Linked DNA regions of Homo sapiens: region 2 is linked to region 1. Evidence: fine-mapped expression QTL. Tissue or cell type: whole blood. Region 1 holds a variant in brackets; the other region holds the start of a gene. All regions are shown on one strand. Distances are from middle to middle.

What was found. PIP is the estimated chance that this variant, and not a neighbour inherited with it, causes the effect.
Region 2: it holds the start of POMC, and the variant in region 1 is fine-mapped to the expression of POMC in whole blood (TOPMed, PIP above 0.99).

The regions. Positions count from the first base shown.
Region 1 is chr2:25,235,819-25,243,818 of GRCh38, reverse strand. DNMT3A (DNA methyltransferase 3 alpha) reads left to right here. Exons shown (of 23, transcript NM_022552.5): 17 at 2,112-2,257; 18 at 3,089-3,179; 19 at 3,369-3,517; 20 at 4,604-4,689; 21 at 6,814-6,883; 22 at 7,994-8,000. Among named protein-coding and RNA genes, the nearest start is that of LINC01381, 36 kb to the right of the region's middle. The variant T/C (reference allele first, on the strand shown) is at 4,912.
Region 2 is chr2:25,163,753-25,171,889 of GRCh38, reverse strand. It overlaps POMC (proopiomelanocortin), which reads left to right and starts at 3,310. Exons shown (of 3, transcript NM_000939.4): 1 at 3,310-3,392; 2 at 7,098-7,249. The coding sequence starts at 7,118. RefSeq lists cis regulatory regions at 3,008-3,033, 3,034-3,207, 3,273-3,285, an enhancer at 3,194-3,213 and a promoter at 2,624-3,436.

The sequences.
Region 1 (8,000 bases):
ACGAAATGATGGTTAGCTTCACAGCTGTTAAAATATTATCCCAAAGGGGAAGCTTGTGTGTGAAGTGGAAACGTATGCAGTCCGTGGACTTAGATTTGACCAAAAATAAAAAAGTAAAACAGGTGGTAAAGCAGCCTGCCTGCTGGGCGCTTCCTTAGTAAGGAAGATTCAGCCACAGAGGCCGAGTGATCATTAGTCAGATTCACAGAGATTTCACAGAGCCTCAAAGGACAGATTCAGCAAGACAGAAACATACACAGTTCTGTTGTGTTTTGATTATACACAAGATAGTCTAAAGAAGACTTATTTAAATCACCCATTATCCTTTTATTAATATTTTGGCATATGTCCTTTTCAGATTTTTTTCTGTGCGTTTGTGTTTATATAACCATACATCCATAGATAGATAAATTAAGTGGGTAGTGAATGCACACGGTTTTGTAACTTGCCTTGCATTTATTATATTATGATTGCTTTTTCATGTCAAGCGATATAAAGCTACATTTTTTTTTTTTTTTTTGAGACGGAGTCTGTTGCCCAGGCTGGAGTGCAGTGGTGCCATCTTGGCCCACTGCAACCTCTGCCTCCTGGGTTCAAGCAGTTCTCCTGCCTCAGCCTCCCGAGTAGCTGGGACTGCAGGCACCCACCACCACGCCCAGCTAATTTTTGTGTTTTTAGTAGAGACGGTGTTTCACCGTGTTGGCCAGGCTGGTCTCGATCTCTTGACCTTGTGATCCGCCCACCTCGGCCTCCCAAAGTGCTGGGATTACAGGCATGAGCCACCAGACCCGGCCAAAGCTACATTCTTTATTTGTAAGTGTTGCGTAAGGTTCCATTGAGTCAAAGTGCCGTAATTTATTTAACGAACCCCTATTAGGTCATTTACTATTTTTTTTATTATTATTATAAGTAGTGCTGTGACAAGCATCCTGATAGAATATATACTTGAACCATTCCCTCCTTAGGAAAACCTTTAGGAGATGCTGGGTCACCCTGCAGGCATTGTTTGCTTCATGTGACTCTGGACACTGCAGAAAGCGTCCTAGGAGATTGTGAAGACACATCCACCCCTCTGCCCTGCCCCCCCAGCCAAGGGCTTCCCGGCTTTTAAGAAAGGAATAGCTCTTCTTAGAATTCATGTCTTTGGCCAGAGGGAGATAGGCAGTCTCAACCCAGGGACCCTGGTTAGAGGGTGAGGCGGAGGGGATGGCTTCCCCGGCCAGATGTTTGTCTTCTGTTCTCAGCTCCATGCTGCTCTTCTGTAAACCTAGAGAAGTTCATTTACAGCTTTTTGTATCCCAGACTGGAACCTTGAGGCCTTCTTAAATCATGTCACACCCCAGGAGGCTGTAAAAGCTCCTTGGCTGGGGGACATGTTGGGAGCAGCAGAAACAGTGCCGTACCCTGTTTCTCCCGAGACCCTCTCGGGATCTGCTCTGATTGTTTCCTTGCCTCAGTTCGGCTAGCATTTCTGGAGGGGGAGGGATCGTGGTAAGGAAATCTGTGTGGTTAGCTCGGGGGAAGCACAATGAAGGAGGCCTCCTCTGTCTGGAAGAGCCTTTGCAATCCACGAGAGGGCTGAGTGAGGAATGGAAACTGCTCTGATGGGGAGGCAAGGGATGCACAGAGCTGGGGACTCATAGCGGAGGGGGCGGTGATTCCAGGGGCTACTGGGTGGGGCAGGGCATTTATGAAACCTTTGTGGAGCAGGGAACATTCAGGTTGAGTCAAAGGGTGGGGTAGAATTGTAGCAGGAGGTGATAAGAGGGTATGGAAGGACCAAGTTGTAGACGGACAACAACAAAGAAAAGGCCCCCAAAAAGTCAGCTGTGATTCTTCCTGGATCCTGGAACCATGTACTCTCCGGTCAGTTTTCTGCAGCTTTGACTGCCTTCCAGATAGGCCAAACGAGGCATGAGACAGAGCCTCGATGTCCTTACTATGGATACTCCAGTTGGATCCAGAAAGGATTTAAGGCATCTTCAGGGAAAAGATAGGACTTGGGCCTACAGCTGACCCCATGGGTCCTGTTGGCCAGCAGGCTCACCTGCCGAGACCAGGGTGCCAGGGAGATGGCTCCAAGTAACGGTGCTGTCTGCTGGCTGGTGCAGGGCTCCTGGTGCTGAAGGACTTGGGCATTCAGGTGGACCGCTACATTGCCTCGGAGGTGTGTGAGGACTCCATCACGGTGGGCATGGTGCGGCACCAGGGGAAGATCATGTACGTCGGGGACGTCCGCAGCGTCACACAGAAGCATGTATGTCCATGCTGTGGGGCGCAGCCCGTCTTCCCCTCCCTGCACACTCAGCACCTGGAGGCAGCCCTTGCCTCCTTTCATTTTGTTCATTTGCCCTCTTTCTCTTCACCCTTTGCCCCAGCCTCTTTTTCTCCTTATCTTCCATTTGTCCTCTGTCTTGAGAGGGTAAAGGGCAAATTGAAATGGGAATTTGGGCTAGGCATGGTGGCTCATGCCTATAATGCCAGCACTTTGGGAGGCCAAGGTAGGAGAATCCCTTGAGGCCAGGGGTTTAAGACTAGCTTGGGCAACATAGTGCCTACTTGAGCTCTGGCTACTCCCTGGGCTGGTTTCTGGACAGTTTCTAGTAGAGCTCTTTGGATTAGAGAGAGGTTCCTGTCCTCCCAATACTTTTGGCAAATAGCTTTATCAGCTTCCATATCTGGGAGGCTCAGGCAGGGTCTTCCCTTAAGCATGACTACAGGCCCTCTGGAGTCCTGAAGGGCAACTGGAGGACATTCACATGGCCCAGACACCCTGCCTAAGACACTCAGCATGCCAGGTACCTTCAGACTCAGCCGTCCACTTGGGTCACCTTCCCAGTGGGTGGCTGTGTTGCCTGCCTGGGTGATACTAGTTTCCCCATTGGCCTAAGAAATGATCCAACTTGGTCCCGTTCTTGTTTAGGACTTGTCCATGGTTGCAGCTAGGGTCGTGAGCCTGCAGAGCAGCTGGGTCTCCTCTCTTTCGTGTCAAAGGACTTCTTTGCCAAGTTCACAGATAATTTCTCTTTCTTCCTGTCTGCCTCTGTCCCTGGACAGCAGGCCCATCACGTTGCCTTTATCCTCCCAGATCCAGGAGTGGGGCCCATTCGATCTGGTGATTGGGGGCAGTCCCTGCAATGACCTCTCCATCGTCAACCCTGCTCGCAAGGGCCTCTACGGTAGGTACCATCCTGTCCCCTCCACCTTCTCAGCTGGTGCTTCCGCACATAGGCTTCCTCCTTGGATATTTCTGCCCTGGGACAGCTATTCCCGATGACCCTGTCTTCCCGTGCCCTCCCCGTGCCCGAGCCACACCACTGTCCTATGCAGACAGCCCCAGCTGATGGCTTTCTCTTCCGACCTCTCAGAGGGCACTGGCCGGCTCTTCTTTGAGTTCTACCGCCTCCTGCATGATGCGCGGCCCAAGGAGGGAGATGATCGCCCCTTCTTCTGGCTCTTTGAGAATGTGGTGGCCATGGGCGTTAGTGACAAGAGGGACATCTCGCGATTTCTCGAGGTATAGCCAGCAACCTTGGTTTGGCCAGCTCACTAATGGCTTCTACCTTGGACTGCTGCTTCATCCTGTCTCATCTGCATTGTGGAGCTGGGGACTGGTGACTTCTGCTTTGCAAGGGGCCTGTTTGGGAAGCCCCAGGCTTCCTGGATAGAAAGGGAGGAAGCAGGGTTAGAGGCCTACCTCGGAAAGAACCAGTGGTCTCACTCTAAGAGGTGGCATTGTGGGTGTGGACCTCCGGGGTTGAAGGACCTGTCACTCAATCAGGTGGGGTGCCAGACTCCTGGGGTTGGGTATTCTGTATGGTGTTTGTTACACACCAGGATCTTTGAGAGGACAAAATCAGTTTTCCCTGAGCAAGAAGGGCCTATCCTCACTCCCTGGTACCATGACAGGCACCTGAGAAGAAAACAAGACTTAGCTCAGTTTTCATTCCTTATCATGTGAGTCCCCGTTTAACCCTGAGCCAAGTCTGAGCCGCGTGCAGAGGGCTTCTGCTGCCAGAGGCGTGCTTGGAGTGGCCCTTCTGGGAGCTTGAGCCCACCTGTGCTCCTGAGTCTTGGGGTGGGTCACACTGTGAGCTGGTGTTCTGACTGTAAGTGTGAGCAGGCGTCTGTTTGAGTTCTAATCAGGGCTCATGGTAAACACACCCATACTCGCTGGAGCCTGGGCTCTCCCAGCCTCTGGGTAGTCTAGAGCAGCACTGTGCAATATGGTAGCCACCAGCCACATGCGGCTGTTTACATTAACATTAACCATTCAGCTCCTCAATCACATTGGCCTCATTTTAGGTACAAAATAGCCACCTGTACTAGTGGGCTAGTGGCCACTGAATTGAACAGTGTAGAGGACAACCCACCATCGCAGAAGTTCATTTGGACAATGCTGATCTAGAACGTTCCAGTGACAGCTTGTGGAATGTGGCTAGGTGTAATTCCAGCTTCTCCTGGAGGCTGCAGGCTAGCCCAGTGTGTGGCTCCTGAGAGAGAAGTAAGAGGCTTTGAGGCTTTAAGGCTCGACCCCAGCAGCATGCCGGCGCTGTTTCATGCTCCTCCTTGGCTCATCTTCAAACCGTCTCCTGTTTTGTAGTCCAACCCTGTGATGATTGATGCCAAAGAAGTGTCAGCTGCACACAGGGCCCGCTACTTCTGGGGTAACCTTCCCGGTATGAACAGGTTGGTGAAAGCTCCTGGGCCTGGGGGGCTGTGGGCTGGGACTGCAGGTGGGATGACCCATAGTGGGGAAGCCCCTGAGCCGGGCCCTCTCTGGCCGGCCTCTGCTGAATGACTAGCTGCTCTGCCATGTTCCTTATTTCCTTTTCCTTGAGGAGGAAGAGGAGTCAGGGTATAGAAAATACTCGTCTGAAACCAACAACTAGTGGTCTTAAAGCAGGACCT[T/C]TAAAAGTACTCTCTTTATACCAAAGAAGAGTCCTGTGCTGCTGAGTTAGGTAGTTGGTTTTCTGACATTGGTGATGTGTCCCGAGCCCTCTGGTTCTTAGATTCTCCTGAGGCAAAGCCATGGGGCATGGCTTTGGGGCTGGGAAGGGGAGTTGTGGCCACAGCCTGTTCCAGGAGAGGGAATCTTGCAGCGGCTGCATGCAAGTTCAGGGTTCTGCTTAACTTAATTTTACTAATCACACACTTTGTTGGCTTCAGGTCCTTTTTTGGAGAGATTTTCTTCAGTTAGGTTACACAGATAAAGATTTTAATATCTAGGAATGAAGAAAATTCATTTCATCAGTTATAAAACTGGCATTATAAAAAGGCTTTTTAGGCGAAATAAATTGTCCAGAGTTGGCAATTCAAAAGCATGCTGAGAGCCGCTCAGTCCCTGTCCATTGTGGAGGGAAGCGTTTTCCAGAGTGTTCTGAGTCATGGGTGTTAAACCTCCATGGTGGGCTGCTTGGTATACTTGGTATAACTAGGAGACATCATTTCACCTGGCCTCGGTCAAATAATCTCCCTCCTTGCTATTCCCATGAGGTTGTAGGACCTTCCCCATCTCATACATGTTTGGTAGAGTTGCTATCGAGGGCTTGTTGAGGGGAAGGAGATGGGGCATTGGGGCAGCTGGCCTGAAACTGTCCCCCGAGAGTTCCCAAGATACATGTGCATATTGGGAAATGGATGGGCTAATGAGGTCCAGTATTTTCATGGAACCACTCAGTGTCTCCCGACAGACCTTGGTCCTGTGGGATTTCTCGCCTGCTTCTTTCAACTCTAAAATACTAAACTCTGAGCTTCTAGGAGGAGCAGAGGTCCTGCATGCAGGGCCGACTGGGCAGTGCACGCATAAAGAGTCGGGGACATCTGTCGAGCACCTGATTTGACTGCAGGCCCCGTGGTTCCCACACTGAGATCCTGGAGCCAGTGCTCAGGGAAGCCTTCCTTAAATATCCTTACATGTCAGAAAAGGTCAGCGTTGAAGGGGACAGCCAGTCAGTTATGTGGCCTGCACCCTGAGAAGTGACATATTTAATGTCACAGAATTTTTGGTCTTTAGGGAACTGCAGAATTTAAGTCTGGTTTTTTTTTTTTTTGGAGACAGAGTCTTGCTCTGTCGCCCAGGCTGGAGTGCAGTGGTGCCATCCTGGCTCACTGCAGCCTCCGCCTCCCAGGTTCAAGCGATTCTCCTGCCTCAGCCTCCCGAGTAGCTGGGATTACAGGCACCTGCCACCACGTCTGGCTAATTTTTATATTAGTAGAGACCGGGTTTCACCATGTTGATCAGGATGGACTCAAACTCCTGACCTCAGGTGACCCGCCTGCCTCAGCCTTCCAAAGGGCTGGGATTGCAGGCATGAGCCACTGCGCCTGGCCCAGAATTTAGTCTTTTAAAGCAGTACATTTAAGGCTTGCGGTTTGATTAATTTCATCCAGTGGACACACCCGTGTAACAATCACCACAAATCAAGATACAGAACATTGTCACCCCCAAAGCTTGCTTCGCAGTGGGACGCTTAAAGCTCAGTGTATTTTAGACTAACTGATGTAAAGATAGCTGTGCTTTTTTTTTCTTTTTCTGCTAGGTGTTATCTGCCTGTTCACAATTTGAGACCACTTTTGAATTTACCTTTAAGGATTAACGCTTGGTGGATTTGTGTCTTTGCATGGCTGCAGTGTGTGTTCGTGTGTTTGCGGGGAGTTTGAAGAGAGTTATGACGTGTGTGCGTGATTTGGGGAAGGGGCTCTTACCCTGTGAACTAGTGGCTGCTGGGGGAGGGAGGGGAGTCGTGCAGCTGGGGCCCTTCCCGCTGTTATCCAGGTTTCTGTTGTTACAGTCTCTCTTCTGCCTCCTAGGCCGTTGGCATCCACTGTGAATGATAAGCTGGAGCTGCAGGAGTGTCTGGAGCATGGCAGGATAGCCAAGGTCAGCTCCAGCGTCTAGAACCTCTGCTGGGGGGCAGGGAGAAGGAAGGGCAGGATGAGGTGGAGCGGTGGCCAGGGCCTTGTCCCGCCTGCTTCTCCAGCTAGTGTGGAGAATGCAATTTAGGAGACGGTGCAGGGTCATGCAGCAGGGCAGCCAGAGGAGGGCCCAGGGCTGCTGGCCTTCAGCCCTTCCTCCCTGGTGAGTGTCGCCCATCACCCCCGGTAGACACTGAGGAGTCTTTACCAAGACCTGGTTGTGCTGTGGCTTTTTTTTCATTTTTAAATTTTTTGGCCAAAACCTATTACAAAAGCCCTCAAAGCAGCCTCCTGTGATGTGGAAGCTCCATTTCTCTCTGGAGCTGGAATCTCCCGGAGTGACTACCTGGGGCACTGGGTTCTGTGTCAGCAGGTTCCAGCATTCAGAACCACTGGCAGCTCCGAGGGCATCTTTGAGCCCCTCAGTAACTTGGCATCCTTTAGCCTACAAGTTACTCCATCTCTGAAAGAACTAATTCTTTGGAAGACTTGGAAAGTACAGTGGCTACAGCTTCTACTTCTAAAGTCTGTGGCTAGGCCGGGTGCGGTGGCTCACGCCTATAATCCCAATACTTTGGGAGGCCGAGGCAGGCGGATCACCTGAGGTCAGGAGTTTGAGACCAGCCTGGCCGACACGGTGAAACCCTGTCTGACTAAAAATATAAAAATTAGCCAGGCATGGTGGCGGGCGCCTGTAGTCCCAGCTACTCAGGAGTCTGAGGCATTAGAATCGCTTGAACCCGGGAGGTGGAGGTTACAGTGAGCTGAGATCGCACCACTGCAGTCCAGCCTGGGTGACAGAGCGAGACTCCGTCTCAAAAAAAAAAAAAAAAGTCTGTGGCTAGATGGATCTAAGATTGGCCAGGTGACCTCCAAGTAGGAAGAAAAGTGAGGCTGTGGGGTCTGTGGAGGCTCCTGCCCTGCGAACTCTGCTCACTCAGAGCCATACCCAGCCCCCTGGGTGGACCAGGCCCTGTCAGGGTTTGGCGAGTACCTGGCATATTTGGTAGACGCATGACCAGTGTTGGCTGGTGAATGAATTCGTGCTTATTCCTCTTTTCTCCTCTTCATCTAGTTCAGCA
Region 2 (8,137 bases), 72 kb after region 1:
CCAAAACCACAGATCCCAGATGCTTAAAATATATAATAAACAATTTTAAGCCAATAAATTAAAGAATTTAGATGAAATAGACAAATTCCTAGAAATACATATCTGACTCAAACTGACACATGAAGAAGTAGACAATTGAAATAGTGCCACTTAAGTAATTGAATTTGTAATGGTTTAAAACATTTTTCCTTCTTTTTTCCAGCTCCAGCTGAAAGGATTGATTCTGTAATTAAAAACTTCAATGAACAAACAATCTTAAAGATTTAGATGGCATCACTGGTGAATCATCCCAAACATTTAAGGACGAGATAACACCATTATACGCAAATTATTCTACTTAATTATAAAAAGGGGGAGGGAAGATGGATTTCCAACTTGTTTTATGAGAACAGCATAATTTTTTGATACTCAAATTAGACAAGAATTCCACAAGAAAGGAAAATTACAGGCCCATCTCATGAACATCAATGCAAATGTCTTAAATAAAATATTAGCAAATTGAGTCCAGTGCTTTCTGTATAAGGATAATACATCATAATCAAATTGGGTTTAATCTAAGAAGCCATGGTAGGTTTAACACCAAAAAATCAACAATGCAATAATTCACCACATTACTAGAATAAAGGTGAAAAATTATGTCATGTCAGACAATCAAAGGCACCTGTTCTAGGCTTTCAAAGAGGAGCTAGTGGTACAAGGATGCAAGGGCAGTGGTGACTCCTTTCTAGTGGCATTAGCTGAAGTGAGAATGGCAGCGTCCCATCCTGGGGACAGAAGTGACGTCTATGTCAGACGCCTGTGGTCTTGACATGCCCCTTGTGGCCCCTTGTGGTCTGTTTTTTTTTTCTCCACTGGATGTGATTTTGGCCATGGTTCCAGCCACACTGTGTCCCTGCCCATTTTTAGATCCTGGTCCCCCAACCTGCCCAGTGATTTTTTTTTTTTTTTAGATGGAGTCTTGCTGTGTCGCCAGGCTGGAGTGCAGTGGCGCGATCTCGGCTCACCGCAACCTCCGCCTCCCAGGTTCAAGCGATTCTCCTGCCTCAGCCACCCGAGTAGCTGGGACTACAGGTGTGCGCCACCACGCCCGGCTAATTTTTGTATTTTTAGTAGAGACGGGGTTTCGCCATCTTGGCCAGGAATGTCTCCATCTCTTGACCTCGTGATCTGCCCAACTCAGCCTCCCAGAGTGCTGGGATTACAGGCGTGAGCCACTGTGCCCCGCCTACCCAGTGATTCTAAATGCAGTTCAATGGCCTTTCAGTTCATGGAGGCCAAAGCAGGTTCTGCTGCATTAAATTAAGAAACTGGGCTGGGTGTGGTGGCTAACACCTGTAATCCCAGCACTTCAGGATACTGATGTGGATTACTTGAGCCCAGGAGCTTGAGACCAGCCTAGGCAACATAGTGAAACCCTGTCTCTACCAAAAACAAAAACAAAAACAAAACAAAAAACCAAAACCCAAAATTAGCTGGGCATGGTGGCATGCATCTGTGGTTCCAGGTACTCAGGAGGCTGAAGCATGAGGATCACTTGAGCCCAGGAGGTGGAGGCTGCAGTGAGCAGTGTTCACACTGCTGCATTCCAGCCTGGGCAACAGAGTGAGACCCTAATTCAAAAACAAACAAACAGAATGAGAGAGAGAGAGAAGAAAAGAAAGAAGGAACCCAGTTAAAGAAGTTGGGTCCATTTGGATTTTTCCTGGTTTGTTTTATCTGCTGCCACCAGCAGCCTCCTGAAGTTACAAAAATAACACAAAGTAAAATAAGGCAAAACCACCATCTGCTTGAAAGAGTTTACAAACCTGATGGTGGTCGTGGGGTGGATGGAAGATTAAAAAAATGGGGACAGAAGTGAATTAGTGCAAGCCACTTGCACTGACAAGATGGGGATGGACTTCTGTGGAAGGCAGAGGAGGTCATGCCTCATGCCCCTGGTAGGAAAAGTGGCCAAAGAGGGCTTCAGAGAACAGGGGCTGATGGATGGGCTACATCTTGATGTGAGTCAAGCTCCTGGATGGCTGGAGAGAGGAAGGATGTTCTAGTTGGGGGAACAGCTTGGACAATGGAGACCCAAGAAAGCCATGTTCTAGCAGTGTGAATGTTGTGGATGCTGAAGTGCCAGGATGCAAGGTGGAGAACTGGGAAATGGCCCTGGAAAGGGGCCAAAGCCGGGTGATGAAGCACCTTGTCTACTGTGACGGAGCTTGGATCTCTCTTGTGGTCCAAAGGGAAAGGATTGCTGAATGTAAAGCCAATGTCACCAGAAAAGCTGAATCCACAAGAGAGTCCTGGAGTCCAAAAGAGCATCTCATGGGGAATCAGGAAAGTTCTGGCATTTGGCAGATTAAGCAAGTGTCTTGATTTGAAGTCCAGTTTAGTCCCAATACTCCCTCCCACACCCACCACATCGCACAATTTGGTTTTGTTTATTTACTCCAGGTTAAGGTAGAGTCTCTTAGCTTGGTTTGAGTGCTGTACTCTTCTCTCTGGTCTGATATTTGGAACTAAAGCCAAGCCAGAACTCCAGGGCCAAGGGGGATGTTGAAAATTGTCTGAGTCCCCAGACCACCCTGCCAGCTCATGGCAAAGGGAGGGATCAGAGGCCACAGGGAAAGCACTTCAGCTGCTCTTCACAGCATCACCCTCTCCCCATTTAATGGTTTAGGTTAACAGGACTTTTTCCTTGAGGCTTGGGACACGGAAGGGAGCCTCCCCTAAACCAGGCCCTTGGAGAGCAGGCCCCAGGGGAGCAGTGCAACTCACCTTCACACCCACAAGACGGCTCCTGACTTCTGCTCCCTCCTCCCCTCCCCAAAGTGGAACAGAGAGAATATGATTCCCCACGACTTCCACATCACAGTTTCCAAACAATGGGGAAATCGGAGGCCTCCCCGTGTGCAGACGGTGATATTTACCGCCAAATGCGAACCAGGCAGATGCCAGCCCCAGCACGCACGCAGGTAACTTCACCCTCGCCTCAACGACCTCAGAGGCTGCCCGGCCTGCCCCACACGGGGGTGCTAAGCCTCCCGCCCGTTCTAAGCGGAGACCCAACGCCATCCATAATTAAGTTCTTCCTGAGGGCGAGCGGCCAGGTGCGCCTTCGGCAGGACAGTGCTAATTCCAGCCCCTTTCCAGCGCGTCTCCCCGCGCTCGTCCCCCGTCTGGAAGCCCCCCTCCCACGCCCCGCGGCCCCCCTTCCCCTGGCCCGGGGAGCTGCTCCTTGTGCTGCCGGGAAGGTCAAAGTCCCGCGCCCACCAGGAGAGCTCGGCAAGTATATAAGGACAGAGGAGCGCGGGACCAAGCGGCGGCGAAGGAGGGGAAGAAGAGCCGCGACCGAGAGAGGCCGCCGAGCGTCCCCGCCCTCAGAGAGCAGCCTCCCGAGACAGGTAAGGGCGCAGCGTGGGGGACCCGTGCTCTTTCCCCGGGATCCCCTGTCCCCGTCCTCGCGATGCAGTCGGCCGGCTCCGGCTCCGAAGGCGGACCTGGGCGCCTCTGGCTCTCCGCGGTCCCGAGTTCTCGACAAACTTTCTGCGCCGACTGCGGCATGAGAAGCCGCCAGTAGCTGAGCTGGAGGGCCCACGTCCGGCCCCTGGGCGGACGGCCGCGAAGCTGCAGGCGCTGTCTCCAGGGAGCCGGCGGCCTCCTCTCCCCCAGGGGCTCGCGGCGGTCCGGAGGCTCCGAGAGCTTGCTAGGAGGTCTTGGGACAACCCGGTCTTTTTTTTTTTTTTTGAGACGGAGTTTCGCTCTTGTTGCCCATGCTGGAGAGCAAAGGGGTGATCTCTGCTCACCGCAACCTTCGCCTCCCGGGTTCAAGCGATTCTCCTGCTTCAGCCTCCCGAGTAGCTGGGATTACAGGCATGCGCCACCACGCCCGGCTAATTTTTGTATTTTTAGTAGAGACGGAGTTTCTCCATGTTGGTCAGGCTGGTCTCAAACTCCCGACAACAGGTGATCCGCCCGCCTTGGCCCCCCAAAGTTCTGGCATTACAGGCGCGAGCCACCGCCCCCGGCCAGCCCGGTCTTTTAGTATCTCTTGCTCCCAGTTTCCAGGATAGGTGTCACATCTTGAAAGTCAAATTCCATACACGCTATCGCAAATTAATGTTGGAAACGGGGCAGCAGAGAAAAGGATAAAAGTCATAATGAACGCCCTGCCTTCCGGATTTTTTCGGATTCAGACCCCTGAATCCTTGTTTCCTTGCCCACCTTAGCGCACCCGAGGTGGCCGCGCTATGATAATTACATGATAACTGGGTCAATTACAATGCAGAATAGTTGGGTCTCTTCTCTCCAAGACCTAGCTGGGGTTAAAAACAGGTGGCCGGGGCGGGAGCTGTCCTAGATCCTGAAACGCACTGTCTAGTTTCGGATGCCCTCAACAGAACCGGGGTGGACGGTTTATGGCGCAGATCCTGGGTTGAGGGCACGGGCAGCCATTTGGAATGATCAAGGCTCAGGTAAGGGGCGTTTCCAGCGAAGGAGAGACAGTCCACTTGGCATTTGGATTCCCCAAATTCTTCATGTTTAAATGGGGCAGGGAGGGTTCTTACAGAATGGCTGGAAGGAGCCAAGGAAAATAAAAGTGTGTGTGGATTTTTTTTGTGTGTGTGTCAGTTTATAAACTCTGCACAGATTATGGCCACTTTAATGACTTACTGTTCCTTTGATGCTTTTGTTATAGGACTCGATGCATGTATGTCATGGTGTAAGGACAAAACTCGGCCCCTGTGCTCCTCTAATCTTTACAAAAGGTCATGGCCAGCGTGCAGTTTTACAGTAACAAGCAAAATGATTTGTTGAGCTCATAGAGAGCCCCTCACACCTATGAAGTTCTAATAAGTGTAGTTCTACTATAAAGTTAATCTCAGGATGAGCAAATTTCAAGTTTCTATTTTTCCAGAGCTTTCCATTTTTGGATTATAATACTTTCCCTACTTAAAAAAGCACAACATTTGATATTTCCCCAATAATTTGTTGCTTTAAAAATGACACAAAAGGTACTATTTGTTCATTGTAGAGAACTGAAAATACACATAAGCAAATACACATACACATAAGCAAAATATACAATACAAACACAAGACCATCTTTCAGGGAAGAATCTGAAGTTTTAGCAATAGCAGCCATCTAACCAGTTTAGCAACAGAATATAAGCTCTGAGAGGGTGGGAGTGAATATGTTACCACATTGTACAACACAGCACATAGGGCATAAGGAGGGGAAATGCTCTCTGGGGCTTTCCAGGAAGGCCTGAAGTCATTGCTTCTAGCAAATGGAAATCACTCCAGAGTAGTTATCTTTGACAAGAATTGAAATATAATTGAGGGAACTATCAGACCTGTAAGATTTTGTTTTTTCCTTTACTAATATGTTACTTTACATTTGCATTTGGTGACATACGTAACTACCATTTTTCTGTGACTGTAACATCTGGGCATTTTTCAGAGCTAAATGTGCTATGGTCAACTTGGAGCTTTAATCTAATTGCCTGGTCCACCAAGTTCTGGCTGTGTACTTGAATAGATCACTGGCAGGGTACAATGGGAACAGCCTGTCCCTTGGAGCCAGGAGAGGACACCAAGGTTGACCAAAGCTCGTTCAGTTGCCCCTTTAGCCGAAGCGCACCTGGGCCAGTCACTGGCTGCCAGTGCCATCTAATGGCTGCTCTGAAAATGCTCAGCCTTGCCCGGCAACCCTTCAGAAGCTAGCACCGTGCAGGCCCAGCGCCTGGGGAATAGGGCGAGGGTGGGGTAGAGAGAAGGAAGTGGCCTCCTGAAGTAGAAATCAGCGCTTCAGAGGACTTTCACTTCCAAAGCCTCCCCTATATAAAAAAGATTTGGCCCACGCCTCCCCAAATGAGAGATTTATTTTAGGCAAACTTATTTTAAAATGCCAGCGTTCATTAGGAGTGACAAGACACTTAGTCATCCACGCTTTAATGTGAATTACTTTTCTCATCTAATTACATTTCTTTCTAGCAGCTGGCTGAGAAGATCTTCTGAAATCCAAAATGATTGTAGGGTTGGCGGTGAGCTGATCTCCGGCCTCGAGGTGGCTTCAGGGGGCCCACCTGGTTAAGGGAAATTTGGCAGTGCGAGGGTAGTGCTGGAGAGAGGGGTGGGTACAGGGGGCTAGGGGCACCATGGATGCCCCCTCCTTACTGTCCCCTGGTGTCTTGACCTCAGCTTCTGCCCACAGGCACTTGCTGGATTCTCCAAAAGTATCTGCAGTGGCTGTTCCACCAGGAGGTAATTCCCTTCTGGTCTCTTTCCCCTCCACATCTGCATCCTCTTCAAATCCTGCCATTTCAGACCACATTTGAGAGCTCTAGAGAACAAGACATCTGACACGTGACGTGTCCAGAAGATGAGCCAGATTTCAAAGAACTGAGATCTGCTTTAAAAACGAAGCTCTCCAAAGTTACTGGAGTCTGGGTAATAGTGATCACCAGAGTAATTTGTGTGCAGGACATCAAATCAGGCTGCTCGAAATGCTGCCTAAATTGGCCAGTGGTTTTATTTGCTTTTCTGTCAACCTAATATTCATAGGAAATAGAGTTTCAGAGGAATGATAGGATCCTGGTGGAATAAAAAGGGAAAAGACCATCTTGAGCAGGAGTTTCAGGGTCCTCCGTTTTTCCCAAGTTACTTTCACTCCTGAGATCTTGCATGTTAGAACTACAGCTTAATGTAGTGAAATAGGAAAGTTCTCTGTTAGGAGCTTAGCCTTACCTTGTCATGGACATTAAAGTAATTGTCTCTCTTTGGGCTTCAATTTTCCCATCTCTCATGGGAAGGGCTGAACCAAGCAATCCCCAAAATAGCTTCCAGCCTTAACCTTTTTAGGGGTCTCGTTTAAATAGAAGATAACAGGGAAATGGTCACAGTTTACCCACCATTCCCTCCTCCTTATCACAACTTATACCACCGCTGTACTGCACACCTCCTTTCTCAGCATTGCTGCTGTCCTTAAAATGCCTTTAACTCCACAAGAGAGTGTGTTGTTAATGTTGGCTCAAGGTCCTTCCTGGTGAGTGGCCAACATTGTTTTGCTCCTTGCAGGGGTCCCACCAATCTTGTTTGCTTCTGCAGAGCCTCAGCCTGCCTGGAAGATGCCGAGATCGTGCTGCAGCCGCTCGGGGGCCCTGTTGCTGGCCTTGCTGCTTCAGGCCTCCATGGAAGTGCGTGGCTGGTGCCTGGAGAGCAGCCAGTGTCAGGACCTCACCACGGAAAGCAACCTGCTGGTACGTGGGCCATGACTGCCATCTTGGCTTAGACATTAGATGGGACTGGAGCTGGGAAAGCTCAAAAGAAAAGGGTGTGGGGAAAGGGAAATTCATTCCCAGTGATAGGCGTGATTCAATCCAGGGCAGGAGCAAAACTTTGCAGTGAAGTAAGAAATGGGAGAAGAAATCAGGGAAGGAAGCAGCTTCAGGGAGAGGGGTTGAGTCCACAATTTCTGCTTGGTTATCCTTACTTCTTGCCCCATCTTTTATGGAGACCTTGAACCCTTTAAGCTAGAGATGGTGCTATAAGAGCAATAATGGACCCCTCAATCTATTCTGTACTTTAAATCTTTAGCTTCCCAAACTATTCCTTTTTAAGAAGCTCATATCACTTGCCATTTTCATTCCATATTTCTTACCCTTTTATCTACTACCGGTTGCAAAACCAGCCAGGTAGTTCTTCAAATCATCTCTGGAAGAAGGAAAAACCAGGGGCCCTTTTTTTTTTTTCTTTAATTGGTGCCAAATGTCTCATGTTTATTCTGGAGGACTGGCCTTCTGCTGTGTTCCTCTACAGTCTTTCCAGAGCATGTGAAGGCCCTTTGCATCAGGCAGGAGCTCCCTCCAGGTCACCACAGGGTGTATGTATCTGCCTGTGGGGGGTGTGTGTGTGTGTGTGTTGGGGGGCATAAATGAGTAATGATGCCAAATCCAGAGATTAAAAGGCACACTGAGACCAGGCGAGATGGCTCATGGCTGTAATCCCAGCACTTTTAGATGCTAAGGTGGGAGGATTGCTTGAGCCCAGGGATTCAAGACAAGCCTGGGCAACATAGTGAGACCTCCACTTCTACAAAAAATAAAAAAGTTAGCCAGATGTGGTGGCATGTGCCTGTAGTCCTAGCT